Linked DNA regions of Homo sapiens: all the other regions are linked to region 2. Evidence: fine-mapped expression QTL. A gene starts in region 2. Each other region holds a variant in brackets. All regions are shown on one strand. Distances are between the middles of the regions. Region 1 overlaps LINC03016 (long intergenic non-protein coding RNA 3016). Region 2 holds the start of LINC03016 (long intergenic non-protein coding RNA 3016). Region 3 overlaps LOC107986764 (a long non-coding RNA gene).

What was found. PIP is the estimated chance that this variant, and not a neighbour inherited with it, causes the effect.
Region 1: its variant is the best candidate, but not a certain one, in a credible set for the expression of LINC03016 in whole blood (INTERVAL, PIP 0.88).
Region 3: its variant is the best candidate, but not a certain one, in a credible set for the expression of LINC03016 in whole blood (INTERVAL, PIP 0.70).

Annotation. Positions count from the first base shown.
Region 1 is chr7:7,273,304-7,283,647 of GRCh38, forward strand. LINC03016 (long intergenic non-protein coding RNA 3016) reads left to right here. Exons shown (of 4, transcript NR_108073.1): 4 at 4,282-4,766. All of the region lies in intron 1 of LOC107986764 (a long non-coding RNA gene), which reads left to right. Among named protein-coding and RNA genes, the nearest start is that of LINC03016, 23 kb to the left of the region's middle. The variant T/A (reference allele first, on the strand shown) is at 5,773.
Region 2 is chr7:7,250,683-7,261,026 of GRCh38, forward strand. LINC03016 (long intergenic non-protein coding RNA 3016) reads left to right here and starts at 4,472. Exons shown (of 4, transcript NR_108073.1): 1 at 4,472-4,496; 2 at 8,870-8,914.
Region 3 is chr7:7,285,675-7,296,018 of GRCh38, forward strand. All of the region lies in intron 1 of LOC107986764 (a long non-coding RNA gene), which reads left to right. Among named protein-coding and RNA genes, the nearest start is that of LINC03016, 36 kb to the left of the region's middle. The variant C/T (reference allele first, on the strand shown) is at 4,234.

The DNA of each region.
Region 1 (10,344 bases), 23 kb after region 2:
ACTATGTCTAAATTGTAAGAGCACATTTTGAACATAGAATCATTTCAAGCAGGCATTTTCTCATGAGCTATTTGATCTTGAAGGCTCAGCATGTCAACATTCAATACATGAGCTCAGTGTCATTCCTTCCCTCCAGTGTTCTTCCAGCTGGCAGTCCTGTACGTCCATTTGTCAATGGCAGCTCCTTTTCCTTCCTCATTGGCAGTCAGTCTTGCTCGAAAATGTTGGGGCCTGCACCCGACATCTCAGCCTTCCTCCCTCCTTACTGTCCTTGTTTTTGTCCAGTTATTACACCTTCTCACATTCCAATGGGCACCAGATTCATTTTCATTAAAGGAAGTAGGTAGTGTGGAAAATCCTTACATGTATAGCATTTTGTTAAACTGTGCATTGGTTAGAGTTGAGCAATTAGATTGTCTAGATTCAAAGGTAGTTTTTACTACCAGATGTCTGCTTCTCCCAAGAAGAAAGTCTGTCTCACAGTTTCATCCCCAGGTCCCAAGGGGTCCACGGGGGTGTGTGAGCTTGCTTCTTGGGAAAAAAGACATCTGGAGTTCTCCCACACTGCCCATGCTGTGCAGGATGTCTGGGAGGCTCTCCTCTGCTGACTTGATGCTTCCATTTCTCATTGTGTCTAGGTCAGTCTGGCTGTTCACTTTGGTATCTCAGCCACCCACCCCTTCTTACTTCCAACAAGTGCATCCAACAGTATTGGATGCATATAATTTTTTTCACAATTTTACCAAGAAATCAACAAAGTACTGCAGCATGTTTACTAATACTGTAAAGACAAGTTCCTCATACAACCCTTTTCCAATCTCCATACTGCCCTGGCTCCTGCCAGTCTCAGATACCCTACTCTTAGACCTTTGTGTTTTCCACAAGGACTCTGCCTCTTCGGCCCAGTCACCTGGGTCACCTGAGCTCATGGCCCTCCATCTATAACCAAAGACCTATCTGAGTGCCACCCCCTTGGGAGGAACTCCTAGCAAACTCACACAAATTTTATGGATATAAAACTTAATAGATATAAAAATATCTGACTAATGGATATACATGAATTTATTTCTGGGTATGTTTTTGGCTAACAAAAGAATTTTGGATTAACAGCAGCTCCTATCAGGGGTACTTAGAAAAAAACAACAAATTAGTCATAGACAAAAGGAGGCAGAGAAAGTTGGAAGGAAAGGAATAGAGATATGTGTAATGGAATACTGAAAAGATAAAAGAAGATAATGGAAAGTAACCTAAGGCCTAAGAACCAAAGCATGCGAGGATATATGAGTAAAGAGAAGTACTGAAGAGCTGGGATGCTGGGAAGTAGGTGATGGGTGTTAACCTCAGAGTAAAAAATTCAGAAAAAGATTTGCAGTAAATATGGCTAGTTATCTATAGGATTCAATTTTCCTCTTCTTCTGTAATAAAATACTTATTTGTTTAGGGCAGAAATGTCATCAGTTCAGAATATTTAACTTCCTAGACCCCCCTTTGGCTAAGGGGCAGATGTGACACCAGTGAGATGCAGGTGAATGGGGTTCTAGAGGCTTTCCTTCCACAGCAGGGGACAAAGCCTCAGAAAGAAAAGAATGTTGCTATTTCCCTCTGCTTTCTCCTAATTCCTGCCTTGTGAGTGGTCCTGATGCTGACAGATGCAGTAGGTATCTTGCAGCCACGAGGAAGAAAACAGCATGACTAAGGACAGGAGGAGCTGAAAGGGGGATGACACGTGATTTCTGATGAAAGCCTTGAGCCATGACATTTTTTAAATGAAACTAGATACCTCTTACTGAAATGCAGAGATTTCCAGTTAAATTTCCAGCAAAAGAATGAAAAATGGAAATTAACTATAAATCACTTATTTATGTAAAATAATACGAACATAATTTCTATTTGGGGTTCTGTTTTTGTTATTGTATTTTAGTAAACCTTAAAATATAAGAGATTTAAAGCTTACTTATAACCTGAGTCTGCCAAGTGTTTTCTATTTCTTTGTGTATGGTTTTAAGTTCTTCAGCCTCAAATAGTACTTCACTGGGTGTTTTCAGGAACCTACATCTGTTTGGGGAGGAATTGCTATGTTATAATCCTCTAGGACTTTGAGTCCAAGGATATACACACCCCAGCAATCATAGTCTTATAGCCACTAATTCAATTCTTCTTATAGCTTTTGGGGTTTGGGTATTACCCCTTAGAAGCCAAGTTATTAGCTGAATAAGGAAGTAACACCTCCAACAATGCTGTTCACTCAGCATGTTTCTTAAAAAACTCCTTGTTATCCGAGCAAATCCTAAGGATATACACCCAAGATGAGTTATGGAGAATTAATTACTGACTCCTGAGAATCTAAAAATGGGGCAGCAGCCCAGGTGTTCTCATCCTGGAGTCATGCTGTTTCATAAATGCAACTTACCTTAGGTAAACTTAGTGTTTATTTTTGATAGTGCAACAAGTATAGAGCTCAGACCCGTTTCCGGTGACTTCCTTTAGGAAATCTCAGTATATATTTGTTCATTAATGTGCAATAAGAATAAGCTTTCTAAAATTTGGACAAGTAGAAAAAAGTGGTATTTCTGTTCTTTGAATAAAAAGCAAATGCATTTAAAACACGCATAATACACAAGTAGGTAAATTTATCAAAAGGAAAAAGTGATCAATCCTATTTAAACTACCTGTTTTACAATTGCAATAGTTTCTTATTCAGAAATGTATTAGGTCAACTTAAGTACTATTTATTACATCAGAACTACCAACACCTTTAGTACCCTGTTTGGAAGACCGAACATGGATCAGATGTTAGTCCCACCTTAGATATAGCAAATCATTTATTTCCATTTTAATAGTTGAAATTTAGAAAGCAAACGGACCCAGAGGGGATATGCCCACAAGCAGGAGATGAACGTGTTCCAAATGGCAGTATATTTCCAAGGAGACTTACAGGCTTTTTATTCCAAGGATTGGCTCAATACTTCATTACTCAGAAAGTGTGTTTGATCAGGCGAGACCTTCAAATTTGAGCTCCTCTGTGGTCAGGGGAATGCTAATGACTGTCTGACAGCTTGTCACAGACATTGGATTTTTTTTCTTAGCATCTCTGGCCAGATTTCCTGTTTTCTGGCAGCTGTGCTGGTGCAGATTGCCAAGAGGCACCATACCCACAATCTTGAGAGGATTCTGTTTCCAGCAAGCCTTCTTTTACTGTCATCTATGTATTACATCTCTATTTCAAGTCTCTCTAGAATTTATAGTCATACTGGGCATTTAGTTTCAATTTGCATTTGTTTGTTACGTGGCTTTACATGACTTTTTGTCTACTTCATGAATCTGTCCGATCTTCCCAGTAGATCTAAGTACCTGGAGGATCTGACTCTCTTTGACATAGAGAGACTCCCCAGAGACCATGCCTTTGATTTCATTTATAGCCCTTTAGGACAGTGTTTCCCCCTCAAACTCTCTTGCAGACTGGTAAATGTCCTAAATTACCATTTAGGAGTGGGGAATAGAAGGAATGGAGTAGGAAGTGAAATCCAAGACAAGTCACAGTACCTGTTCATAAAAGGGAGGGGTTGCTAGGCAGGAAATCTTTGCCACTCTGGTCTTTTCTCTTAGAGAACACTACCCAGGACTGCTCATCGATCATTGTCAACTATTTACTTTTACGTTAGGGTAAAAATGACCTTATATGCAAGTAGTAGTGATTCTTAGAGTAATATATGATGCCTAAACAATATCTGCAGGTGGTAATAAATTAGAGGTGTGACAGGGCAGTGCTTCACAAATGTTCCAGCTCAAGGTACAATCTCAAGCTTGTTCCAGCAAGTACATGCCCATGTATAGGGGTTAGGGGCTTTGTCTTCTACCTTCACCATTCCTAAGGTATTTAAATCCAAGTCTCTAATAACTTATTCTGGTTTTTAAAGAGGGTAGTTGTTCACATGATAATAATTTCAATAGGGCTGAGATGTTTTGGAGCATGGTAGATGGGCATCACTCCTACTGAGGCTTGCAGGCAAAGAGGAAGACAGATATTGACATTTCTCAGCACTGGTACATGTGCTGCAAGTCACCTATTGGTCAGTTGTAAGAGCAGGTGCAGGACAGTGTATATACAAGTCAACACTGGGAGAGGCACATGTAAGAGCTGAGGGCTTATAGCAAGGCTTGGGCAAAGCAAGGGGTATGGTTGAGCCAGAAAGTCTATGAGAATGAAAAGGCCAGGGGTAGAACCTCAGGCCTCAGATCTTGGTTAAATCCTAAAAACTACTCATTGTGCTTCTGTTGCAGACAATGCATAGGAGTGAATGAGACAGAAAGCAAGACCATGAGGATGACTAAGAAGAGCAAGTACAACATGGCTGAGACTAAGTGTCCAGGGAGTTGAGAATAAGTGGCCTATTGTCATGTCCTATATAAGTAGAGTATATGGATGGGAGGCCAAGAATACACCAACAAATAAAATATTGAATATATCGGTCAAGGGCATATCGAGATGATCAGGATGCTGCCTATTGGAATGTTTATCCTCCCACCCTACCCCAGAAGAGGAGCTTCTCGTCTTGTTCACCGCTGTTTCCCAGCTCCTGGAAGAGCCTGGCACATAAAAGGTGCACAATGAACATTCATTAAAATCAATGATTAATTGAACTGGCTAGTATTCCATCTCACTTTCATTACTGGAGAACTGAAGAGCCAGCTAGCCTACAAAAACTCATTCTGGATGTAGAAGCAATAAGAAAACATGCATTCAAATAAAAGCAGAGAATCCTTCTAATATTTCTTCATGTGTCTATCTTTTCCCATCCCCAACACATTTATTTTCCTTGACCTACAAAGGATCTGTTTTGTCCATGATGAGTCCCAAAAACAGCCCTCAAAGTGGTTCTCCCCACCTACCCCACTCCACTGATGCTGCATCACATGGTAGGGTGTTGCCTTGCTCCTCCATGCAGGGAGCTTTTCTCAGCACCACTAAGGTACCAGGGAAGTGGTAACTGGGAACAATTTTCCCCAATACAGATAAAGCCTAGATAAAAAGTAGGGTGATACATAGGCAAGGGGTAGATGGGGCCTTCCTAGAGGACACTATGTCTTCCTGAATTTAGTCCATTCATAATCAACAAACCAGCCCTACTGATTTAATGCCTAGGCTCTGCTGCCTGACTATATTTAGCAAAGCTTTTGAATGGCAGAGTGATTTCCTATAGGAATACTGAGTTTTTTCCAGGGACAGATGTAGCCTTGGTACATTGTCTGGTTATGTAGGATTTTTTTTTTTTTTTTTTTTTTTACTGCACTTGTGCTGTTCTCCTTTTTTCAACTTATAGCTGGAGACCGTTTTCTGCTACCTCAAAACCTTTTTGAAATTAACCAGTAATAAATAAGATCTTTCTCTATAGACAGCTTTTTTCAAAGGAATAAAAGAATTAGAAAATATGGAGGATCCATAGTATGCACGCCTTTGGTTCCTGAGGTCCCTTAGATGATATGGAATTCTTTAAAAATGTAGATCGATTTTGATAACATCATAATCAAGATCCTAAGAAATCACTAGCATCCATCAGATTATAAAGTTTCTGAGCAATTCTCTCCCCAACCCCCATCCTGAGCCTAACATGGTGACTTGCTCACAGCCTCACTGGATAGATACTGGTTAGATAAATGAAAGCATTCATTAATCAATGTGATGTGAAGAATTTAGATAAATGATTCCTATTTCTCTCAGTCTAACAAGGGGAAATAGTCCAATAAACATATCTGTAAGTTTAATAGAATTTG[T/A]AAGTTCCTTTGAATATTTGGAAATCTATGATTTCATTTTTAAGACACACAGAATCTATTATGATAGAGCACTGAATTTTATTCAGTTAGGTAATTTTGTGCCTCTTATTTTTAACCAGTTTGGTGTCTTTCTTGTGCTTTTCACTATAGTATTCATGGATCCTATTAACAGTAAAGAAAGTGGCAGACGCCAGGCATGGTAGCTCATGCCTGTAATCCCAGCACTTTGAGAGGCTGAAGCAGAATTATTTGAGGCCAGGAGTTCAAGACCAGCCTGGGCAACATAGTGAGAACCTTTTTGTTGTTACTGTTGTTGTTGTTTTTTAAAGAGAGAGTAGAGATACTAGGTTACTCCGTGGTGAGGCTTGGGATGGTGGTGGGAATGGAGTGGAGGAGGGACTTCCTTCCCAATGACTAGATATGTCTTAATTTGTAAGACGGCTCTCTCCCATGTGACTTTCTCTCCTCTACCTATGTCAACTTTGTGTTGGGAGTGTTCAGGACAATATGTGAATGGAAAATTCATAAATGAATGTACCAATAGAAATAAAGATACATGTGGGTGTTGCTTTTTCACTTTTTCAATGAAGATCTGATCCTTTGGTGTTTTACTTGGTCCCAATCCCACTTTTCCACAAGTTGTGGCTAAGGACTTGTCCTTGATTATAAGATTCTGGTTGTTGAAACTGTTATTTATGCATGAAGGACTACTCAGAATATCACTGTAATTACACATCTGCCCCTCTGAGTTCTTCAAAAATAGGAACATGACAGATATGTTTGGAAAAGGTTAAAAATATGCTTAATGCTAAAAGGAAAATGAGCTAAAATTTTCCTGGTATTGTATTATAGTTCTATATTTTATGATGATCTTTATTGCAATAGTTATACCTTGACTTTACAAAATTCTTTCATGTTTTAACCCTTGGTGTCCATACTTTTGCCTTTGGGAATATCATGCAGGCTTGATGTAACCATTTTGCTTATAAGACAAGCAAATTGGACCAGCCACAGTGGCTCACACCTTTAATCCAAGCACTTTGGGAGGCCAAGGGGAACAGAACACTTGAGTCCAGGAGTTCGAGACTAGCCTGGGCAACATGGTAAAACCTTGTCTCTACTAAAAATACAAAAATTTGCCAGGCATGGTGGCACACGCCTATAATCCCAGCTACTCAGGAGGCTGAGGCATGATCTTTTGTCAATTTAGTTTACAGGGCCCCAGCAACAGAACCTTGAAGGGTAAAAGAAAAGAAACCGTGTTCTTCCCTGCAATACAATAGGAGAGTTCAAAGGATGTGACTCAGGGTAGGTCAGAGATCCACAAGGGTTTCATTTCTGTTGTCAAAATAAGTACAGTGAAAATACCTACGAAAAGTAATAATTTAGAGACTATTAGTAAATAGTTCTTTGGTATAAGGTAATTTGTCATATTATTTGACTGGGGAAGGAACTTAGGTCATCCTCAGCTCTGGGATGCCTACACGGCAGGCAGATTGGTGCTTTTTGCAGCCTCACAGAAGACAGAAACAAGCAGAGGGCAAAAGATAGAACTCAGAAGGAGAAAGTCTAGTTGACAGAGCAGGAACATCGCCATCTTGGACAAGCACTGCCATTTTAATGTTCACCTTCATCAAAAACCTCGTAAATCCAAGGGCATCAGCCTAATGACTAAGGTCAGAATGACCATAAGCCACAAATGACATCTCTTACCAGAAACATTCCAACCATAAGATAAACCCCTCCCCAACCAGAGACTTGCCAGCCCCAAGATAACCTCCCCTCCAGCCAGAGAGATGTCAGCCCCAAGATAACCTCCCCTCCAGCCAGAGACATTCCAACCCTGCAATAAATTTCTCCCCCACCAGAAACATTCCAAGCCTGTGGTAAGTTCTCTCACCCTGAACCCTTAAATACTTATTCTGTAAGACAGAAGGCTCCTAACCAAAAATCAGCCAGAAGCCCCTCTCAGGTTTATTCTCCAAAATAAACCTGTCTTTGACGGTTGAGCTGCTTTTCATGTTTCTTTCCTCTTTGGCTCTTATGCTAGCGCTGTAGTGCTACTTCACTATTTTTTTTTCTAGAACAGCTGAAATTCTCTTTTTATGTAGAATGAGACTCAGGGAGATTTGATCACTTTATAAATTTTTTTTCAAAGCAGGTCCCATTTCTTTCCATCCCTTTCAACAATCCTCAGTGCCTTATATAAATGACAGTTTTCTAATAAATGACAATATTCTAGCTTAGTAGACAATAAACAAAATGGAGAGGGAGAGTTTTGCATAGTCTTAAATAATAGCTAAATAAAATATAATCATCAACTTAAAGATGAGAACTCTAATTACCACATATTGTGAACAATTTCCATATAATTAACTGTTGTTTAGGCTATAGAGTAACTAAGACAGCTCTCTGGTTTTCCTGTATGTAGAAAACATATTGGTTTGGCAGATGTTTTACTTACTATCAATTGCTTTTCAATAGATAGTTTCTCTTCCTTTGCAGTGAATTCAACACAATCCACTTAAAACAACAAATGTTTATTGAGTAATCAGTACATACAAGGCAATATGTTAGGCCTGAGAAGAAAAACAAAAATAAGCCTCAATACTTTCTCTTGAGAAGGTAACAAAAAGGAATAAAATGTATGTGTAAATTATGATAATCTGTGGCAGAAAAAGTAAGTGAATAAACATTTCATCTGGGTGGAAAAGTTTGGTCTTACATTTGTGATGATACTAGAAGGTAGGCAAGATTTAAAGGGCTGAGACTAAGGAGTTTCCAAGAAAAGGGAACACTGCCTATGAAAATATGAGGCAGATAATCTTGAAGTGTCTTAGTTTTTTCAAGTTTCTATAACAAAATATAAACCACGTGGCTTATAAACAATAGCAATTTATTTCTCACTGTTCTAGATGCTGGTCCAAGATCAAGGCACCAGCAGATACAGTGTCTGGTAAGAGCCCATTTCCTCGCTCCTAACTGACACCTTTCTTGCTGTATCCTTAGATGGTAAAAGGGGCTAGCTAGCTCTCTGGTGTATCTCTTATAAGCATACTAATACCTGTCATGAGGGTGGAGCCTTCATTATCTAATACCTTCTAAAGGCCTCACCTCCTAATACCATCACCTTGGACATTAGGATTTTACCATATAAATTTGGGGAGGACAGAAACATTCAGACTATAGCAGAGTGTTTTCAGGGAAGAATGAGAGATGTGGCTGACAGAAATTTAAGGGATCACAATAGAGTAGGACTAGTTTATGCTAATACAGTAGCCATTAGCTACACGTGGCTACTCAGCACTTGAAATATGGCTAGTCTAAAGAGAAATTTTCTGTAAATGTAAAATACATACCAGATTTTGGACACTTAATTTTAAAAAGTAAAATATCACATGTTTTTATATTGATTGTGCATTACAAGATATTTTCAATAATACAGATTACTAGAATTAACTTCATCTGTGCCTACTTTTTTTAATGTGCACACTAGAAAATTTTAAGTTACATATGTTGCTCATATTATTTTTCTATAGGATAACATTGGGCCAAATTATGCCAAAATTTGAGTATCAGACAAAGCTCCCCAATAACCCTTGCTGCCACTGCAGACTCCCATAGCCTAGGCCACCAAGGTTTCCCACAGTCTCCACAGATGGTGACCTCAGTTGACAGAGCTACATGGAGACTGCACCACTGCACCCTCCCCATAACTGCAGCCACTGCACCCCACCAGCCAGCACCCTAACACATACCTGCAAGTGAAACGCTTTCCCCACTGAAGCCAGTCCATAAAATCTGGAAATGTTTACTGCTCCCTCCAATGGCAGACATCTATGCAAGGCCATGAGAAACATGAAAAAGCAAAGAAACATGACACCACCAAAGGAACAAAATAATTGTCCAGTTACTAATCACCTCAAAATGGAGATCTAGAATTGTCTGAAAATTGATTAAAAATAATTATTTTAAGGTAGCTCAGTGAGATACAAGATAACACAGATACCTCAGCAAAATCAGAAAAATAAGACATAAAATAGGAAGTTCAACAAAGAGATAGAAATCATAGATAAGCCAAATAGAAATCCTGGAGCTGAAGAATACAATTAATAAAATGAAAAAAAATACAATAGAAAACTTCACCAGCAGATGAGATCAATCAGGAGAAAGAATTGGTGAACTCAAAGACAAGGCTTTTGAAATTATTCACTCTGAGGAGAACAAGAATAAAAGAATGAAAAAAAGTAAACAAACCCTGCAGGACTCATGGGCCACCATTAAGTGAACAAATATACACCTTATAGGAGTTTTAGAAGGAGAAAAGAGAGAAAGAGAAAGATACTTATTCAAAGAATTAATGATTGCAAACTTCCCAAATCTTGGAAGAGAAATAAACAACCAAAGTCCGTGAAGCTCAGAAGTTCCCAAATAGTCTTTACCCAAAGAAGACTTCACCATGACACATTATAATCAAATTGTCAAAACTCAGAATTTTGAAAACAGCAAGAAACAAGTCTTTCCACATACGGTGAAACCTCAAAGGTTATCAGCAGATTTATCTTGCAGATC
Region 2 (10,344 bases):
ATATGTCAGAGACAAAGAAAAAGGATGGTTATGATTATATTTTAATAACTGGATTTTTAATGTAATTGAAGTATTAAAACCACTGCATTTTCATGTTGATTAGGTTTATATAATAAGTGGTTTATTTGATGAAGTGAAGGTAACTATGTGTTTAGAATAATTGGCCACAGATATAATTCCTGATTTTTAAAGTAATTTTTACAAACCTACTTGCCTGACGGAATTTCTCTCTTTTTTGGCCTTTGAATTTATAGCTCTTGGAACCTTCTCCTACTCATCTCTCATTCCATGTTTTTTTCTTTTACCCTTTCTTTTTCTTCTGATTGGCAGCAGCAAGTCTTTAGTTTCTTAAGACTTTTTATTGCCCCCATTCTTTTTTTTTTTTTTTAAGTAGGGACAGGGTCATATTGTGTTGCCCAGGCTGGTCTTTAAACAGTTTGGCCTCCCAGAGTGTTGGGATTATATGCATGAGCCACCATGCCCGGCTGCCTCTATTTTCTATCAAAATGGATGTGTTTAAGACTTTTTAAAAAATTGTGTATCTTTTGTGAACCTCAGTTCCCTCTCACCAGCCTAGAAGTTGCTGAAAGAAAGAAGAGATAGCACTCAAAGAATCGATGCCCACATTATCCTGCAGTTTCCTCTTTCTTAAGGAAATGTTTCCTTCTAGAACCTACTCAGTGAAAATATGGGTGCTTAAATACCTGAAAACCAGTGGGGAGAAAAACTTAATCTTTATAGATAAAAGATTTCAGTGTTCAGTATTAAGGCAGTCCTCTCTCACATCTTAAAAATGGTCACTATGACCTGTTGAATAAAATGAATATAACCTCAGATTATGTGACCTTCCACAGCCTGACCTAGCATGTATTCCCTTTTTAAAAAATTGCTATTCCTTACCTAAACGCCAGACAATTTAGCTCCAAATCATTTAACCAACATTTGAGTGCCTACTAAAAGTATTGAGCTAGATAATAGGGATAAAGTGGCAAATTATATTTGTTGCTGTCAAGGAACTCACCTTCTATTAGAAGCAAAGTACCCAAAAAAGTAGTTGTGTGCAGTAGAGTTATACTCTCAGGCAGTGTGCTAATTGTTTTACATTGCATTATCCCATGTAATTCTTACTACAATCCTGGTGGATGGATTATACTATCCACTGTTTCAGGCTTCTACTGGGGATCTTGGTATGTATCCCCCCGTGGTTAAGGGGGAACTACTGTATTTTGTTAACCTCCAGCACTTTACACAAAAGGGGAACTGAAAGTACCAGATGCTACATAGAAGAAAGAATGGAGTGTGTGAAGCAAGAGACTCTTCTCGAAAGGGGCCAATTTAAATCATTTCATTTCCATATGCAGCCATAACCATGTAAAAACTTCCATCCACATCATTCAATGGCTTTTATACTCTTAATTCATATTGCTAAGAAAACTTCTGGCTTATTCTTCTTGTTAAAGTTTATGAAGTGTCCTGATATGGAGGGGGGAAAATGCCATTTCTATGACATAAGCCCATTAACCCACCCAAGTTGTCAGAATCAAGAGGAGGTGTTTGAGAAATTGTTTCCTCTTTTTAAACATTTAACATTTTTCTTTTGTGTTAGTTTTTCTTCAAAACGTACAAAAAAGTACGCATCATTGTATCTTGTGTATTTACTACCAGCTTTTACTAGATAAGTCATCTTTCCATTGAAAAAGTGATAAGCTCCATTATTTTAAAAAAAACTTAAACATTCATTGCAGATGACCATTTCAAAGATGAAAATTTTTAAAGGACCCCAAACCCCACCACCCCCCAAAGTAATTCCAATTAATGCATAAATATAAATTGGATAGGAAGCTAAATAGATAGAAATGGTTTTATTAAAGTGAGATCGTGTAACAAATGCTAATTTTAACATTATAATTTCAAAAAAATACAGTTGCTCTTGATGTGGCCAAAATCTGCAAATTGTCCTGGGGGCAGGGAGAGGGGAATGTCATCTTAGCAGCAACAAAATTGAGTGATTTCTTTGGGAGGGGGAGATGGAGAGAGGAAGAACGGACTGGACTTAGGCTTCTCTGTAGCAACATTCAGTGCTAAAGCAGAGTGAAGCAAACTCTACCAGATTCTTGGGGGAGGAAGAAGCCAAGTGATTTCAAATGGAAGGGTAAATTGAAAGAGTGAGGGTGGACACTTCTTGAAAAATCTAGATGATGAAGCCCATCTAAAGAGATAAATGGACAAACATTGAGAACAGGACTGGTGGTGGTTAATTATTTAACTATGTAGCTATAGAATTATTTAAATAAGGCTATGGAAGCATATTGAAATGTTATAAATCTTGATATAGAAAAGATGATTAACAAGTTAGAAAATAGAATATCAAAGACGAGGTAATATATACATGCCCTAATTGGTTTTACTTTTCAGAATAGAAATTTTGTAAAATTGATAATATATCAAGAAATAGGGATGTAATATTCTGAATAGTTATGAAGGTAATCACCAAAACTGTAAGCCTGATAACTATTAAAATGAAAACACAAAATTAAAGATAACACAGGCCATATAAGAGAGCTAAAGGGAGAATTTACAATAGATGACAGAATTAAGACCAAACATAGATATGATGTCAAATAAGGAAAAATATGATTTAACTTATAAATGTATGAATATACAAAAACTGTTGGCAGTACCTTTGGGGAAGGGTACTAGGATTGGAAAGAAATTCAATAATTCACTGTTTTCCTTTTTGAACTTTTAAAAAATCATGTTTATACTGTCACAGTTTAGAGAAGTAAAGTGGGAAAAAAAAGCTGTTGGCCCTGGCTCCCTAGGGTTTTTACAACCAGTGGTGAAGAATGTCCACAGACATTCTTAAGCAGCAGTAGAGGTAAGCAGGTACACACATGAGCTGGAAAGATCTCAAAGCTGATTTGGATTCTTTTATCTTGCCATAAGAAATTACTTTCTTCAATCAAGGGTATAAAGACTGCTGAACTAGTTCATAATGAGGGTAGATGAAGGAGGTATCCATCTTCAAGAGTGGTAAATAGTTGACCCATACAAAGGACCAGCAGCCTCATGTGGACCCGTCTTAGCATCCTTCTCTCCTTCTACTCCAAGGGTGAAGAGTACTCGGAAGTTACTATTTATTCTCAAATCCTTGTGTCAGATTATTTTCATATCTTTCTTAGATCTGTTCTGGCTTAAGTCTTATTCTCTTATTCATGGAAATAGAAGACACTGAGCCCTTTCCCACATAAAAATATAGGACTACTGATTTCTAGAGCTTAAAGATGTTCTAACGCCTCGTTTGAAAGATTCAGAAACAGATCTAGAGATGTTAAAGTTTAGAAAAATGACACAAATAATGCCAGAAGTGGCAACAGAACTCAATTTTCCTGACTCCCAGGTTAGTGGTCTTTGTACTAAATGCAATTTCTTATCTTCCCTGAACAACCTGAGCTATGTACTTTAACAAAATTTTTTGTGGGTACATAGTAGGTGTACGTATTTATAGGGTTCATGAGACACTTTGATACAGCCATGCAACAAGTAATAATCACATCATAGAAAATGGAGTATCCATCCCCTCAAATATTTATCCTTTGTGTTACAAACAATCCAATTATACTCTTTTAGTTATTTTTAAATACACAATTAAATTATTGACTATAGTCACCCTATTGTGCTATCAAATACTAGATCTTATTCATTCTTTCTGTTTTTCTTTGACCCATTGTACTGCTAGATAGAACTCACATATTTGGTCCCTGCCTTTTCCCACCATTTGCAAATAGATTCTAGGAACGATCCTAATAGTTGCCAGGCACTGTTATCAGAGATCAAATCTGTCTTGTTTCCAATTGTGCCTGGGACATAATAGGATTTTTTTTTTTAAATAACAAAGCCATGTGTAGTGCTGCATGCCTGTTGTCCTAGCTACCCAGAAGGCTGAAGCTCAGGAGTTCAAGTCCACCCTGGGCAACAAGACTCCATCTCCACAACAAAAAAGTTTAAAAAGGTTACTATACGATTACTATACATTGTATGTATCAAAATATTACTCTCTCCCCCATAAATATGTACATTATATATCAATTAAAAGGAAGTAAATGGTGAGCATCCTTTCACTATGAAGAAAAGTTCTCCATATGCCCCCTACTTTCTTCTGTTTCATTTTTATGGAGACCTCTAAACAAAATGCTTTTCTCATAGATATGGAGGGACTCCTAAACAGGTTTTCTGCTTGAGAAAATCTTGATTTGAACTCCACGTATCATACACCATCAGGCAAAAAACCTCGCATTTACGTTGGAGAATACAGTCCAGAAAAAGAACAAAACCTCAAGTGTGGGCAGAAGATTGTGTGTATTTGCTATTAGGGAGGAGAGCTCAGGTTCCTTTTCTCTACAGTGACCATTAGACATTCCAAAGCACTGTCACTTGGTGTAGCTCAGTGCTCTTGGTTACTGAAGCAACAAGTGATCTCTGATGACAAAACAAAGGTAGGGTCGTGCCTAACACTGGTAAGGAGAAAACTGTGTCGAGTTAGTTAATAATTAATTTACATGTCAAGTTACAAGTTTTCTATCCTAAAATCCAAAAAAAGCAACAGCTCTTTTTTTTCCTCCAGTCATTAAATCACCCATTCAACAAACTTTCACCAGGCTCATGGTTTGTCAGCTATAGAAGAGAAAGGAGGGCGAAACCTGTGGTTAAGGCTTGCCTGAAGGATCTCACATTTGGGTTGGGGGCTGACATGCCAGTGAACAAATAGCCTCCTCAGGACTATGATAGAGGTATTTACAAAGAACTATAAGAGGACTGTATATTAAGTGTTTAGGGATCTGAGAAGTTTCAAAGAAATTGTGGCATTTGAACTGGATTTAAAGAATAAGGCTCAGGTACAACTTCATGTGAAAGAGTCGATATATTCACAAATTTGCCAAAGCCCAGTTAACTTCAATTCTTCGAGAGTTCCAGTTTTTTCCCAGGTGCAGTCAGTGTACCATTTTTTTCTGAGACCCACAGCCATTTTCTTTCATTGGCATGTTTTTAGGTTTATTTTTCAATAACTCCAGTACCCCTGAAATTTCCTTCCTTAGATCTTGAATAAATATATTCAAGTTGGGCATTACTGCATGGTTTGAGGATAATGTCTTTCCTGTTAAAAATATTTTTAAGTTTTTATACAAAGGTAATGTATGTGCTTGGTAAAAGAGAATGAATATAAAATGAAAAGCTATAATCTGCTACAGCCCCACCCAGCAGTCCCTTTGTCCAGCCATAAACAGAAAATAACAGAACTGTACTCATTTCCAAACTAAACACATCATTCTGCTCCTTGCCTTTTCTGCTTACTGTTTAATAACTTAGAGATAATTCTTTTTAATAGTTAACTAGATCTCTGTATGGATGTGCCACAATTTTTAAGCCATTCCTCTATTGATAATTGAGTTGGATACTTTTATTATAATTATTGCTGCACTGAACATCCTTGAAATGATTGTGTGGGTACAGCCATAGGATAAGTTCCTAGCAAGTAATTGCTGAGATAAAGAATGTATGCATTTAAATATTCATAGATACTGCCAAATTGCCTTCTTAAACTGTACTGTACTACCTTATACTACTACTCAACATTTGCGAGTATATTTTCCTGCCCCTTTTACCAAAGTTTTTGATTATTGAACTTACTAGTTTTATCACTGCATTAATATCTGATAATTGTTGATTTGTACTTAAGGTTTGAGTTTTTTTTATACATTGGTAATTTGCATTTCATCTTCGCCAGTTTTTAATATTGAATTACTAGGGTTTTTAAAAATTTTTATAAACTCTCTGAATATTGGTTTATTTATATGTATTAGAACTGTTATGATTATTTCGTACTTGTTTTTTCCCCACACAAACCAATTAATCTTTTCTTAGGGCTATTGAATTGTGTGTCTTGCTCACACCAAGGTTTATTTATAATATGCTTATGTTTTCCTCTTACTTTCATAGTTTCATTTTTTGTGTTTATATTTTTGATCCCTCCAGAATTTATTTTCTTATATGGAGTGAGGTAGGAAAATGGCTACCCGTTTGTTGTAATACACTTTATTTGACGATCCTTTCTTTCAACATTTATTTTAAATCACCATTACCCCATGATATTTCATTATCGGTTTGTGTATAAACTGTATTCTGGTCTGCTTATCTGCCTATTTCTTGTGCAGTACATTGTTTTAATGATTTCAGATTCATAACACTTAATAACTGACAGAATGAATTACCTACTTAAACATTTCGTACAGACACTGTGGTGGATTCTGCTACATATCATGGCATTATGCCATGAATGCTTTCCAGCATTACTGGCAGAAATAGCCACCCTTAAAATATGCCCCTCGTGATCCTCAGCGGTTCCCAGGGTACAGTGTAATGTGTACCCAGAAATGGGTTGCCCTCTTGCCCATTCCTGGGCTGCCTCCTAGGGACAGTGACTCCAGTTAACTTGCTGCTTCAGTGGGCACTACCATCTTCTGCTGGTGACTTCTGTCATCTTGTTTGACCCTGGGGAAAAGACTTATTTTCCTCTTTGTTGCCCACAGTAGAGACCAGACTTTCCTGACCGTTCCAGAATAATGAAAGAAAGGGTCCAGATAGTACTTTATGAGAGCGGCCAAGCTCCAGTGGAATCCTCTCCACCCTTACCAGGCTACTGCTCTGCCCTCTTTGCTACCTGTTTCCAGGTCACCAAAGGTAGTTCAGCTACCCCACTAGAAACCTTCAGTTATCAGCACTTCTTTAGAATTGGAGCCAAATTGACATCTGCACTAAAAGAAATGAGGAAGGTTTCCACTCACCTAACACTCTGGACACCCTCCTCCCAAAATTCCTGCTGAACCAACCTCTCCCCTGGGAAACTGGCAGTGAAAACATTTAGTCTTTTCAGAGGAAATTACACCTTTACTCAGAGAAACGTGGTCTGGATTTTGGATCTGCAGCCCCAGTAAGAGAATTGCCTAATGATCTGGTATCAGTTAGTACAATCAGGCCCTTCATATCTGTGGGTTCCACATCCATGAATTCAGCCAATCGTGGATCAAAAATATTCAATAAAAAATAATATGACAAAAATATAAACAATACAGTATAACTGTTATTTCCATAGCATTCGTATTAGGTATTATAGAGATGATTTAAAGTATGCAAGAGGATAAGCATAGGTTATATGCAAATACTATACCATTTTATATAAGAGATTTAAACATCCATGGGTTTTGGTATCAGAGGGGGTCCTGGAACCAGTACCCCAAGGATACTGAGGGACGACTGTCTATTTCGCAGTCTGTATTGTTTTTACAAGTGGGGCAGCAACAACCAAACCCAAATGAGGCCGCATCAGGCTCAGCCCTGTTCCTATTTTGTCTCCCTGCACTAAGGGTTTCAAGCATGTCTTAGGGCTGTGGTCAGCTTGTTAACACAAATCAGCCTTGAAACCTAACAGAATGTTACTTTACAATTTCCTGTTACTATGTTCCTTTTTAAAGTAAGCTACTTCCAAATCGATCTTCATCCTTTTCAAAATACCAAATTTCGGAAATGGAAGGGGGAAAGGAATGGGGGAAATACAAAGTGAAATCACCTGTATTTTCTTAGGGACCCTAACTTAGACATGACCAGCTATTTCTGAGATTCTTAAGTAAACTGTTTTTTCTCTCTGAAAGTCTGACAGTCTCTGCCATGTCAAGCTCTTTATTTCATGTCTTATACTTAGACCCACTCAGGCTACTTGGACAAATGCTCAAATAAGTTGACCAAATGAAAAACGTGTTCAGAGGTTGAGTGACTCAGAGTGAGAACAAGTGAAGCAGAACTGAGTGGTGGAACTTAACCTGCGCCTGAAGTTTTGAAACACATCAAGTCTAGTCTTCTGTATTTTAATAATATACAGACTTAGAGGGTGGAAAGAGATAAAGTGTTATGTGCTCATAAAATCAATTTATAAGTGACCTCATAGGGTCAATCACCTCAAGATAATATAAATTCATGATTTAATATATTAATGTAACCTTTGCTATGTATTAATCAGTATAAATTTATAATTCAGTAGTCTACAAATCCTAAACTTAGAGAATATTTTCTGAATTTGCTCTTTGATTACTCCACGTCTCTGCATAGAATTTTCTGACACTCACTCATCAGGATGTGTTTATAAAGGGTTTTCTTTCTTCCTCTTCACATTTAAATGATATAGAATTACCCAAACTTCCTGTTGCTACTGAAACTGAAGCAAGAGAAGCAAGGGAAATTGAAACTGAAAATGTGAACCAGCGACTTTACCCAGAAGCACAGTTGATGGCATCAATGAGATCAATTTTTTAATGAAATTAAAGAAAGTAGAGGTTTCAGCTGACACTGTTTTTCTCCAGACTCTCTACTATGCGGCAGGATGGTAGTTGTTTCCTCTCAACGGAGCTAAAAATTAACTTCATCCTATGGCATGATGTATTAAAATCAGGAGTGTTTGGCCCGGCGTGGTGGCTCACGCGTGTAATCCCAGCACTTTGGGAGGCCGAGGTGGGCGGCTCACGAGGTCAGGATATCACGACCATCCTGGCTAACACGGTGAAACCCCGTCTCTACTAAGAATACAAAAAAAAAAAAAAAAAATTAGCCGGGCGCGGTGGCGGGCGCCTGTAGTCCCAGCTACTCAGGAGGCTGAAGGAGGAGAATGCTGCGAACCTGGGAGGCGGAGCTTGCAGTGAGCCGAGATCGCGCGACTGTGCTCCAACCTGGGCGACAGAGCGAGACTCCGTCTCAAAAAAAAAAATAAATAAAATAAAATCAGGAGTGTTGATGGTAACTTTCTCTTTCCCCTCTCCAACAGGTAATTTCTCTCAAGATCCAACCCAAGCTATTCTATATACACAAGGTCAGCAAACATTTGATTCATTTTGTCAGCTTTAATATAAATCAAAATCACACCCAGGAGGCTGGGGTGTGGTCAAACAGACATCAAATCCCCTATTGCCCTAATAGCCAGTCAGTCACCCCCCTCTTTCATGTGGGAAAGAACACCGGAAGCAATTTGACAAGTAACAATCAGGCTTCTGGAGCCATGGACAATTGCTGTTAACTCTTGACTGTTCTGACAACATTTTAGAGCTATCTTTCAGGAATATTAGCCTCCCCCATTAACAAAACGGGGAAAAGCTCATTCCTCAAGGACCTCACTCTTCATTTAGTTCAACAGTTTGGATGGAGAAGGGAGATGTATCTTGAGGGAACACAAGTACATTGATCCCATTTTCTACCTCACTACATTGCTTGCAGGAAGAGGCCTGCAACTTGGTTCACCCCTTTTTTTTTCTGCTTTAGTATTTTAGTTGGGTCAAAGTAACTAAAGAGTTACTTACTTAAATTGCATATTGCGATCCCCATAATTTCCACTGGGTAAAATTTAGCTATACACTGAAGCTTGCTGTAAACATGCAAGCAAGTTGGGAGAAAATATTACCATTAGAGAAGTGGAAAAAGACCGGCCCCCTTCTCCATCATCACCAATCAGGTGTTGAGTGAAATCTCCCGCTTACTATAACATATTACTCTCACAGAGAATAAACACCGTATCTTTCAGTAAGGATCTCTGACCTGTCATTGTGAAGGGAGGACTAGCCAGACTGAGGGTGTGGTGAGGAACTAGGGGAAGCACAGACAGAAGAAACTGCTTTGAGAGGAGAAGCAACTTTGAAGTGTTGCTTAGTCCAGGCCCTGACCTAGGGTTTGGTTTTTTTGAAGTCTGTCATTAACCCTTCCCTCACTTTCCTTCTACTCTTCAAGTCCTATTACATTCATAGGAATGACTGATTTGCCCCCAGGTATTTTGCTGGTCCTGGGATCGCAGAGAGGAAAAGATACAATCCTGCCCGCAGGAACTCAGTGTATAGAGATGGCTTCTCCAACTTAACTATTACAGAGGGCTGATAATACTTTTCAGACATGTCGATCCAAAATGACCAATTAAGGATAAGGACTTGGAAGTAAAGAACATAACTCAAAGACAACAAATGCCCATTCACCAAAGATAAAGCCATGAACTGTCCAGGGCAAACGAGCTCGCCTTTTGGAGGCTAAGCTTCTTGTGGGAATTTGTAGAGTTTGGGGGAGGTCACTCAGTAACTTCTGTAATGAAAAGTTTTGTGGCAGCCAAGTGCAGTGGCTCACGCCTGTAATCCCAGCACTTTGGGAAGCCGAGGCGGGTGGATCCCTTGAGCCCAGGGGTTTGAGACCAGCCTGGGCAATATGATGAAACCTCATTTCTACTAGAAATACAAAAATTAGCCAGGCGTGTTGGCACACAGC
Region 3 (10,344 bases), 35 kb after region 2:
GCTCAGGACAGGATGGCTTCAACTGGTCAATTCTACTAAACATTAAAAAAAAAAAAAACAAAAAAACCAATCCGCCTTAAACTCTTCAAAAATATTAAAGATGAGGGAACACTTTCAAACTTATTTTATGAGGCCAGCATTACCTTTATATCAAAGACAGACAATGACACTACAAGAAAAGAAAACTACAGGCTAATAACCCTAATGAATATAGATGCAAAAATCCTCAATGAAATATTAGCAAGCCAAATTCAACAGAACATTAAAAGAATCATACAGCATGTTCAAGATGGATTTATCCTGAGGATACAAAGATGTTGTAATACATGCAAATCTATAAATGTGATACATCACATTAACAGAATGAAGAAAACCAAATGATCATCTCAAGAAATGCAGGAAAGACATTTAAAAAAATTTATTATTATTTTATGATTAAAACTCTCAATGAATTAGGTATAGAAGAAATATACCTCAAAATAATAAATGCTATATATCACAAGCTTACAGCGAACATCGTATTCAATGGCAAAATGATTAAAGCTTTTCCTCTAAGATCAGGAATAAGACAACAATACCCAATTCTCCCGAATTTCTATTTAATATAGTAATGAAAGTCCTATCCAGAGTAATTCGGCAAGGAAAAGAAATAAAGGCATCCACATCAGAAAGGAAGAAGTAAAACTGTATGTTTGCAGATAATATAATCCTGTATGTAGAAGTCCTAAAGGCTCAACCAAAAAAACTGTTTGAACTAATAAACAAGTTCAGTAAAGTAGCAGGATACAAAATCAACATACGAAATTAGGTAACATTCTCATTCTCTCTCACTTTATTGCCCAAGCTAGTCTTGAACCCTTGGCCTCAAGTGATCCTCCCATCTTGGCCTCCCAAAGCACTGGGACTATAGCTGTGAGCCACTGCACCTTGTAAGTGGTTTCTATACACTAACAATGAATGATCTAGGGGGAAAAAGTCAAGAAAATAATCCCATTTAGAGTAGTATCAAAAAGCATTAAACACTTAGGAATACATTTAACCAAGGAGATGAAAGATTTGAACACTGACCACTACACAACATTGACAAAAGAAATTGAAGATGACACAAATAAGTAGAAAGATATCCTATGTTCATGGATTGGAAGAATTAATGTTAAAATGTCCATATTACCCAAAGTGATCAATGCAATCCATAAAAGAATTCCAATCACATGTTTCCATAGAAACAAAAAAATCCTAAAATGTGTATGTAGCTACAAAAGACACCAAAGGGGGGGAAAATAAGCTAGAGGCATCACATTACCTAATTTCAAATTATATCACAAAACTATAGCAATCAAAACAACATGGTACTGGCATAAAACCAGACACATAGAAAAATAGAACACGGAGCCCAGAAATAATCTCATATATATAGTCACTAATCTTTGACAAAAGCATCAACAATACACAATGGGGTAAGAATAATCTCTTCAGAAAATTTGGTGCCAAGAAAACTGGATATCTACATGCAAAAGAATGAAATTGTTCCCTTATCTTACATATGTGAAAAATAAATTCAAAATGCATTAAAGTCTCAAACATAAGACCTCAACTGTAAAGCTACTAGAAGAAAACCTAGGAGAAATCCTCCTTAATGTTGGACTTGGCAGTGATTTTTTGAATATCACACCAAAGACACAGACAATGAAAGCAAAAATAAAGAAGTGGGCCTACATCAAAGTAAAAAGTTTCTGCACAGTGAAAGAATCAATCAACAAAATGCAAAGGCAACACACGGAATGGGAGAAAATATTTGCAAACTATATATCTGGTAAGGGGCTAATATCCAAAATATAAAAGGAACTCATACAACTCAAGAGCAAAAAAAAAAAAAAAAAAAAATTGAAAACGGGCAGAGGATCTGAATAGACATTTTTTCAAATAAAACATGCAAATGGTCAACAGCTATATGAAAAACTGGTCAGCATCCACTAATCGTCACAGCCACAAGGAGACATCACCTCACACACGTTAGGGTGGCCATTATCAAAAAGTCAAAAAATCTCAAATATTGGCAAGGATGCAGAGAAAAGGGAATTCTGTACACTATTGGTGGGAGTGTAAATTATTACAGCCATTATGGAAAACAGTATGCGGTTCCTCAAGAAACCTAAAAATAAAACCTAAAATAAAAATTGTATAATCCAACAATTTCACTTCTGAGGATATATCCAAAGGAAATAAAATCAGCATCTCAAAGAGATACCTACACTCCCATGTTCATTGCACCGTTATTCACAATAGCCAATGGAATAGGATATGGAAATAACCTAAGTATTTGTCAATGGATAAATGGGTAAGGAAAATGTGGTATATATACAATAAATTATTATTCTGCCTTTAAAAAGAAGGAAATCCTGTCATTTGTAAGCACACTGATAAACCTAGAGGACATTAAGCTAAGTGAAATAAGCCAGACACAGAAAGCCAAATGCTGCATGATGTCACTTAAATAAAAAATCTAAGATGGAATCTAAAAAAGTTGAATCCATACAAACAGTAGAATTGAGGTTGTCAGGGTCTGGGAATCTAAAATTCTAAAATCTGAAAAAGTCAAACTCATAGAATGTGGAATCTAAAAATGTTGAACTTGCAGAGACAGAGTAGAATAGTGGTTGCCGCCAGGGAGGCAGGTGAGCAACGGCAAAACGTTGGTCAAAGGGTACAAGCTCTCAAAAAGCTCTAGAGATCTAATGTCCAACATGGTGGCTACAGTTAATAATAACGTACCGCGTACTTGAAATTTGCTAAGAGAGTAGATCTTAAGTAGATCTTGCACACACCCCCATTCCCCCACCAAAAAACAAGGTAACTATGTGAAGTAAGGAATAGGTTGTTAATTAGATGGGGGAATTATTTCATAAAGTATATGTTTATTAAAACATCACATTGTATATCTTAAATATATACAATTTTTGTCAGTTATACCTCAATAAGGACGGGGGAGAGAATTTTGTAGCTATCCACTATTAAAGAAAATACTTTACATAGAAATTTCTGTAGGAAAAAAAATTTGTTATTATGAATCTGAATTTCTCTAGCCTGTAACTTTCATTTTCCTTTTGAAATGATAGTTCTTTATAATGGAATTGTTAAAAACTGAAGGTTGGTTACTTGGAAACCCAGTTACTGAGTTTTTTTATGCTGCCTGAAATTTAAGGTACTTCAGCATAGATAATGTGGTATGTAGGTGTCTGTTTAAATTAGTGTTAATCTATATCCAAGAAGATGCTTAACATTCAGTACACTCTAAACTCACACTTGAAAGGTGGGTTGCATATGAAAGATGCTGTACTCTGGATAATTCTGCCAGAGCTTCAAAACTTGCTATCTGAATCTGCACTTAAAGAGTTTCAGAAGAGATAATATAAGACCATTTTCAATAGTGAAATGAATGATATGCCTCCACTCTTGGATGAACAGAAGTGTGAGAAATGAAGAGCCTGGGAGCTTAACACCTTGGGAAAAGACTCCTAAAATTTAGAACCCTATCTTGCATTCCTCCCCTTAATGAAGGGTTTTCTTGTCTGACACCATTAGAAAGTTAGCTGATCTTTCAGTCAGAACACTTTCTCATTTTTCCTGGGAATTAGCCTTCCAGGCAAAGTGGCTACTAGAGTTCCTAGATGATCAGAGTATCAGGACTACACTGAGCTTACAGAGCAAGAAGTATGACTGTTTGGGAGTCTGCTTGTAATGGGTATTTGTACACCTCTTGATCTGAGACTTTCATGAGAGGTTGTAGAAAGATGTACACCTCAGTAACTATATACCCTGTTTTGCCCAGGAGGGTCCCAGTTTGCACTTACTGTCCAGTCTTGGTTTTTAATAACACCACTTTTCACTTCTAAAAGTTTCCAAGTTTGAATGTTAAATTATAAGGATACTCTTTTGTGGTATTTTAAAACATATGTCCACAAATTATTTGCTATTTCTCCCTCAAGAGAAGGAGCCTAATTCCTCACCTCTTGAGTATAGGCTGGACTTAGTGACCGACTTCTAAGGAATCAAATAAGGCAGAAGTGATGCTGTATGACTTTGGCCCTTGTCCTAAAAGATCCCCTTGCTTTTTTAGTATTTTTAGTACAGATGGGGTTTCACCGTGTCAGCCAGGATGGTCTCGATCTCCTGACCTCGTGATCCACCCACCTCAGCCTCCCAAAGCACTGGGATTACAGGCGTGAGCCACCA[C/T]GCCCGGCCTAAGATCCCCTTGCTTTTTTTAGGGGGGACCACTCACTGGGGGGAGACCAGCTGCCATGTTGTGAGAACACCCAAGTAGGCCTAAGATAGGCCCACATGGCAAGGACCTGAGGTCTCCTGCCAACAGCCAAGTCAAGCAGGCCATTTTGGATGTGGATCCTCCCGCCCCAGTCAAACCTTCAGAGACCACAGCCCCAAATGACAGCTTAACTACAGCTTCATGAGAGACCCTGAGCTAGAACCACCTAACTAAGCCATTCTCAGATTCCTAATTTTCAGAAACTGAAAGAATGTAAATATTTGCTCAGCACTGCTAAGTTCTGAAGTATTATGCAGCAAAATAGAATACAACTACCTATAGCTTTCACACAGTTCTCATCTTTAGACTTTATTGACATTTACTATGACAAATGAAAATGACCAAATTGCCCTAGGTCTGGCTGAGCCCCAAACCCTCTCAGTATGTTCATATTTCAGCATGGCAAAGCAAAAATTAACCATTAAATTATACCCAATAGTAGTAATAGCTATCACTTTTTGGGCATTTAGAGTTTCTTAGAAACTTTGCTAGGATTTTGTATAGATTTACCTGATATACTTCTCACAATAAGCCCTATGAAAGGTATTCCCAACTTCATTTTGTAAGCAAGAAATCTGAGATTCAGGTAAGGCAGGCTCCAAAAGTTCCCACAGCCATTCATTGGTGGAACCAGCTCTCCACCCAGGTCTATCTGACTCCAAAGTTCACACTCTTCACCAAACTTAAAACTACACACTACTGTCTTTCAACAAAGAATCCAAAAAAAAAAAAAAAAAAAAGAACAGAAATTTTAGTGAAAGACAATGAACAAATGCAGAGAAACTTTGTCTGAAAAAGAAAATATGTAACGTTTTATATGCTGTTGTTAAACCATATTTTTTTCAAAGCAAATAATACATTCATATCGTTCAAAAGACACAAAAGATATTTTGACAAGATAGCACTCACCTTTGCCCCCAGCCACCTGGTGACCCCTTCCGGAGGCAATGAATACTGTTTCTTGCATATCTTTCCAAATATATTCTATGTGTTATCGAAGACCATGCCTACATATACTCCCCACCACTACCATTGTTTCTTACGCCAGTGATAGCATAGACTGTACATTGTTTGGCACCTGTTTTTAACCTAAGAATGAATTTTGGATGTCATTAAGAATCAGTGAATAACAAAGTATCCTCACTTTTTTTTTTTTTTCCTCTTTGAGATGGAGTCTTGCTCTGTCACCCAGGCTGGAGTGCAGTGGTGCAGTATCAGCTCACTGCAAGCTCAGCCTCCTGGGTTCACACCATTCTCCTGCCTCAGCCTCCTGAGTAGCTGGGACTACAGGCGCCCGCCACCATGCCCGGGTAATTTTTTGTATTTTTAGTAGACACAGGGTTTCACCGTGTTAGCCAGGGTGGTCTCGATCTCCTGACCTCATGATCCGCCTGCCTCGACCTCCCAAAGTGCTGGGATTACAGGTGTGAGCCACCACGCCCAGCCCTCACTTTGTTTTTTTTTTTTTTTTTTACAGCTGCATTATATTCTATTGAATTGTATAACATAATTTATGTAATGACTACCCTTTTAATAATGATTTTAGTTATTTGCAATCCTGTTATTTCAAAACAAAATGCTGTGACGACTAACTTTGCCCATATATCATCTCTAAATGCAAGTTCTCAGCCTCATAGCCTACACTGACTTGCTGAAGGTTCAGTCCTAAGGCATTGTGGACTAAATTATTTACTAGCTGAACATTAAAACTATAGGTACTGTGTTGTGATTTTTATTGTTATAGTTTCTAATTTGGACTTGAGATCTCTGTGGAGAATGGCCATAAGCCAAGATAGCCGCTTGCTAGGAGAGCCCTGGTTCAAGTGTGTTGGTCATGAGACAAAATGAGAAGGTGAAACCAAATTGCATGAAACAGAAGAAATGTATGACTTACATATCCCAGAGAGGTTAGGGGTCCCGATGGCAGGCCACAGAAGTCTGGAGGCAACAGGGAGCTCAACCACCAAGCGGGGAGCGAGAGAGGAGAGAGCACATGTGGTCACGAGGCTTTCATTAAGGCCCATTAGCCTTCCTGAGGGGGTTGTGAATTGTCTGGTTTAAAGAAAACACAGATGAAGGGGGAACTTATTAACTCTGGTGTGGGCCATTAGGTTTTATCATGGCCAGCAGCTGTGGGATGAGGAACAAGTGGGCTATATTGTAAACAACCACACAGGGAGAGGAAGTTTTCACCTGGTCGAATGCGACGGGGTACTACTGAGTTCCAGTAACTTGTGTTAGGTCTAAAATGGATGCCCAGGCAGCAACTCCATTAAATACATTTATGACAGTACTGAAACTACTGGTTTCCTTTTCTACTATTCTGAGAATGGGGTGAGGGCAAAAGAGCACATTTTCGTATTTCTTATCTTAAACAAGTGAATAGGCATTTATCTTCTAACCCACTTTATCAGAAAATAGCTGATGAAATGATTTGAATTTGGCAGGCTTATCAGTTCAGTTTTCAATACATTCTCATTTGTCTGTGCAACCAAGGAAATGGTGGCTGCTTTTTAATATAAATACCTTTGTATTTTCCTCAAACTTCCCCCATGTTCTCTTCTTGGAATTCCTACCTGCTTCCGTCCTGCTCCTCCTGTAAATATGCAATTATTTAGGCCTGAAAGCTGGAATTCACCTGTTTCCTCTTTTTTGCTCTCCCCCGGATTGTAGGGGCAATCATCAGAAGAGCCAGAAGTGACCTCGAAATTCTCATTCTTGGTTGCCAGGACAATGGGCCAGCTGGGATGGGAGGCTCCTTCTCACAGTATGAGAGGCTGCACTCACACCAGCTGCTCAAGTGACCAGCCCCCTTCCCAACCCGTCCCTCCTACCCGACACAATCTCCCATAATCTCAAGGTTGCCACATGCTGCATGACTAGCAGACTAGCATTCCTAGACAAAGTCTGTAAACTGCAGCCTCCAGCAGCGTGTCTCTCCCTGCAACAGATATCAAGGGGTTAGTTTCCACTGTTGGAATATAGACCCACACTGCACATCCAGCAGGGCACCCTGCCCCAGCATACTTCTCTGTGGGATGATGGGAGAATGGAGAAGACCTGCGGTCTCTTCCCTCGATAATTCTTCCAGTTTCCCAATAATTTGTCCCTTTTTCCAATAAAGCCTCTTCCTAAACACATGCTGTGTGGCATTGTGGAACTTGTCCTGCCCCTGAAATGAGATAAATGAGATAAAAAGAGACCCATCTTGCCTAGCATATGACCGGTCAGTCTCCAAATACTCCTAATCCTGGAGCGGCTGGTTTACTCAATGATGGACTTTGTAGGTAAGGCAAAGTACAGCATTTTTTGTTTCTCACCTCTCCCCCTTAAACCTGCCCTGCAGATCCATTCTAAGCCAGCCCTGGAAGAACTCTCAGGCAAGGAATATAACCTTTCTGGTCACTGTCACATAATAAACAGTCCATTCTAGCTGACCTGGCTGAGGGGATGAGGAATTACAAGAGCAGTCAATGTCACCAGAGTCAGAGCCACCTCTGCCAACCACCCTCCTGCGGCATGCATAGGGGAACTTCCAGCAGCACCACATCTTGGAACAAAGAGTAGATGTCCAACTTACCAGAGGGCAACATCCTACCAAAATCCCAAGGCGAACAGAAAGATACAAGGGGTGAGAAGCAGCCTCCTTTATTGGATAAAACCAAGCCTTTCATACCCGACCATGTCAACATGAGTAACTAATCAAAATAATTAGAAGGTGCTTACAGCTGAATACTGATCAAGCCTTCTTCCTGTTGGTGAGCAGAAATAGTATGGTGAGCATTTCCACACTGGTTTCCAAGGTGTATAAAAATGACAAGAATGAAGATGGATTCCTGTAAATGGTATATGACTCTCCGGAGACATTTGGAATGAAATTTCTATTTAAGACTGGCGAGACACATCTATTCTAGAATTTTTAAAATACTTAACATGGAAGCAAAGGGATGCTACCAGCTGAGATGGATCCATTCATTCAATCACAGGTCATCAAAACAGTAGCGTTTCCACCTAGGAGTTGTAGAAAAGCAGAAACACTTAGCTCCAGATGAGTACATTCAGCTTTGGAAAGCTATATTACTTAACCTACGCTTTAGAAATTTAAAAACAAAATACTTTGCATTTGAAGTTGCCAATAAAAGAGACTTTCAAGTTACTTTAATGTTTTTTTCCCCAATATGAATTTGCAATTCAAGCAGTAGCTTAAAATCATTCAGAGAGACTTTTTCTCTTTAGTTTCACAGAATCTGCCAACTTGTTTTAAAACCAGAGAAATCTCCATAAGAGGATCTTTAGGTATAAGTTTTCAAGAATAGCCCCCCCAAAACTCATTGCCATAACAGTTACTGCAAAGCAGGATACTTGGGGGTATATTTAATAAAAAACAAAACAAAAACAAAAAAAAACCTGACTCTGAATTGCTGTTCAAGATTTCTGATTTTTTATGGGAAGTATACCAAAGGTCAACTTTCTTGCAGTGTTAACAAGTTTTTACCTGGTTTGCTTCTAGACCATTACACACAGGGAAATAACAAAATCAAACCACTGCTTAATAGGAACCTTGAATAATTGATAGTTTTGGTCTGGCTTCTAAAACGGTCCCAGAGGGATTTAAAAAAAGTGGCATTTCTTTTATTTTGGATTTCCTCCAATCTAGGAATTCAAACTAGTTCTTGATTTGGTAAGTAAAGAAGCAGTTGTGATCAGCTACATTCTTTGGGACAGTGGTAGAAACTACAGAATATAAAAACTAAAAGCATGACAATTCAAATGTATTCCCTTCTACCTTTTGGCTTAAAGCTATACATGATTCATGTTATGTGTTAAGTTTAATAAAAGATGTTATTAAAAATTTCTCACATTTTTAAGAGTACTTCAGTTATCACTGTTAGGTGAAACAAGTCATCACAATTTCCCCACTCTAAGTGCACGTCAATTGTGAAGAAAATGTAGCCTAAGGAGACATATGTTCTTTACAAATACGAGGTTGGAAGTTAAACATCTTCAAAGTTCAATCTAGAATAAATGACGATGCTTCTCGCTACTTACATGGAAGTTGCATGGGATTTACTCTTTATGATTTCCTGGGAGTATCAGATAGACCACAGTTGTGTCATTGTAGACTGTAGAGGTAGCAGGTCAAAGTTCATCCTTCTGTGTTTGAATGTGTGTGAAATACCTGTATCTGTTAGTAAAAGTTATTTAATGGAGAGAAAAAGTCAATTTCACTGCATATGGACCCTCAACTGATTATAAAAGGATCTCTAGCCTCTGTCACCTACTCTTCCCACTGCATGCATCTGTCCACAGGGCTAATTTTTAAAGTGTATGTTTTTATATTGTGTAAATTCTTTCAGCCTGTCTAGTTTAGATTGTATACATCATCATATTTGGCATTCTTACCACTCCTGTGTGAGCCATAAGATTCCTATAAGAAATACTGCTTTACAAAAAACACCATGCTTTACAAAAAATGCCATGCTTTACAAAAATCACACATTAGTGGGTGGTCACTTTATTTATAGAATTATTAAAGCAAGTACTTTTTTCCTTTCTTTTTTTTTGAGACGGAGTCTCGCTCTGTCACCCAGGCTGGAGTGCAGTGGCGCGATCTCGGCTCACTGCAAGCTCCGCCTCCTGGGTTCGAGCCATTCTCCTGCTTCAGCCTCCCGAGTAGCTGGGACTACAGGCGCCCGCCACCACGCCTGGCTAATTTTTTGTATTTTTTTTTTTTAGTAGAGATGGGGCTTCACCATGTTAGCCAGGATGGTTTCGATCTCCTGACCTCGTGATCTGCCCACCTCGGCCTTCCAAAGTGCTGGGATTACAGGCGTGAGCCACCGTGCCCGGCCAAAGCAAGTACTTTTTAATGAACTATATCACATATTAGTGGGCAGTCATTTTATTTATAGAATCGTTAAAGCAATTGCCTTTTTAATGAACTAAAGTGAATAAGACACAACTAAAAACTAGTTTTAAAAGGCACTTGCTTTAAAGATTTAAAAATTTTAAAAACTAAAGTG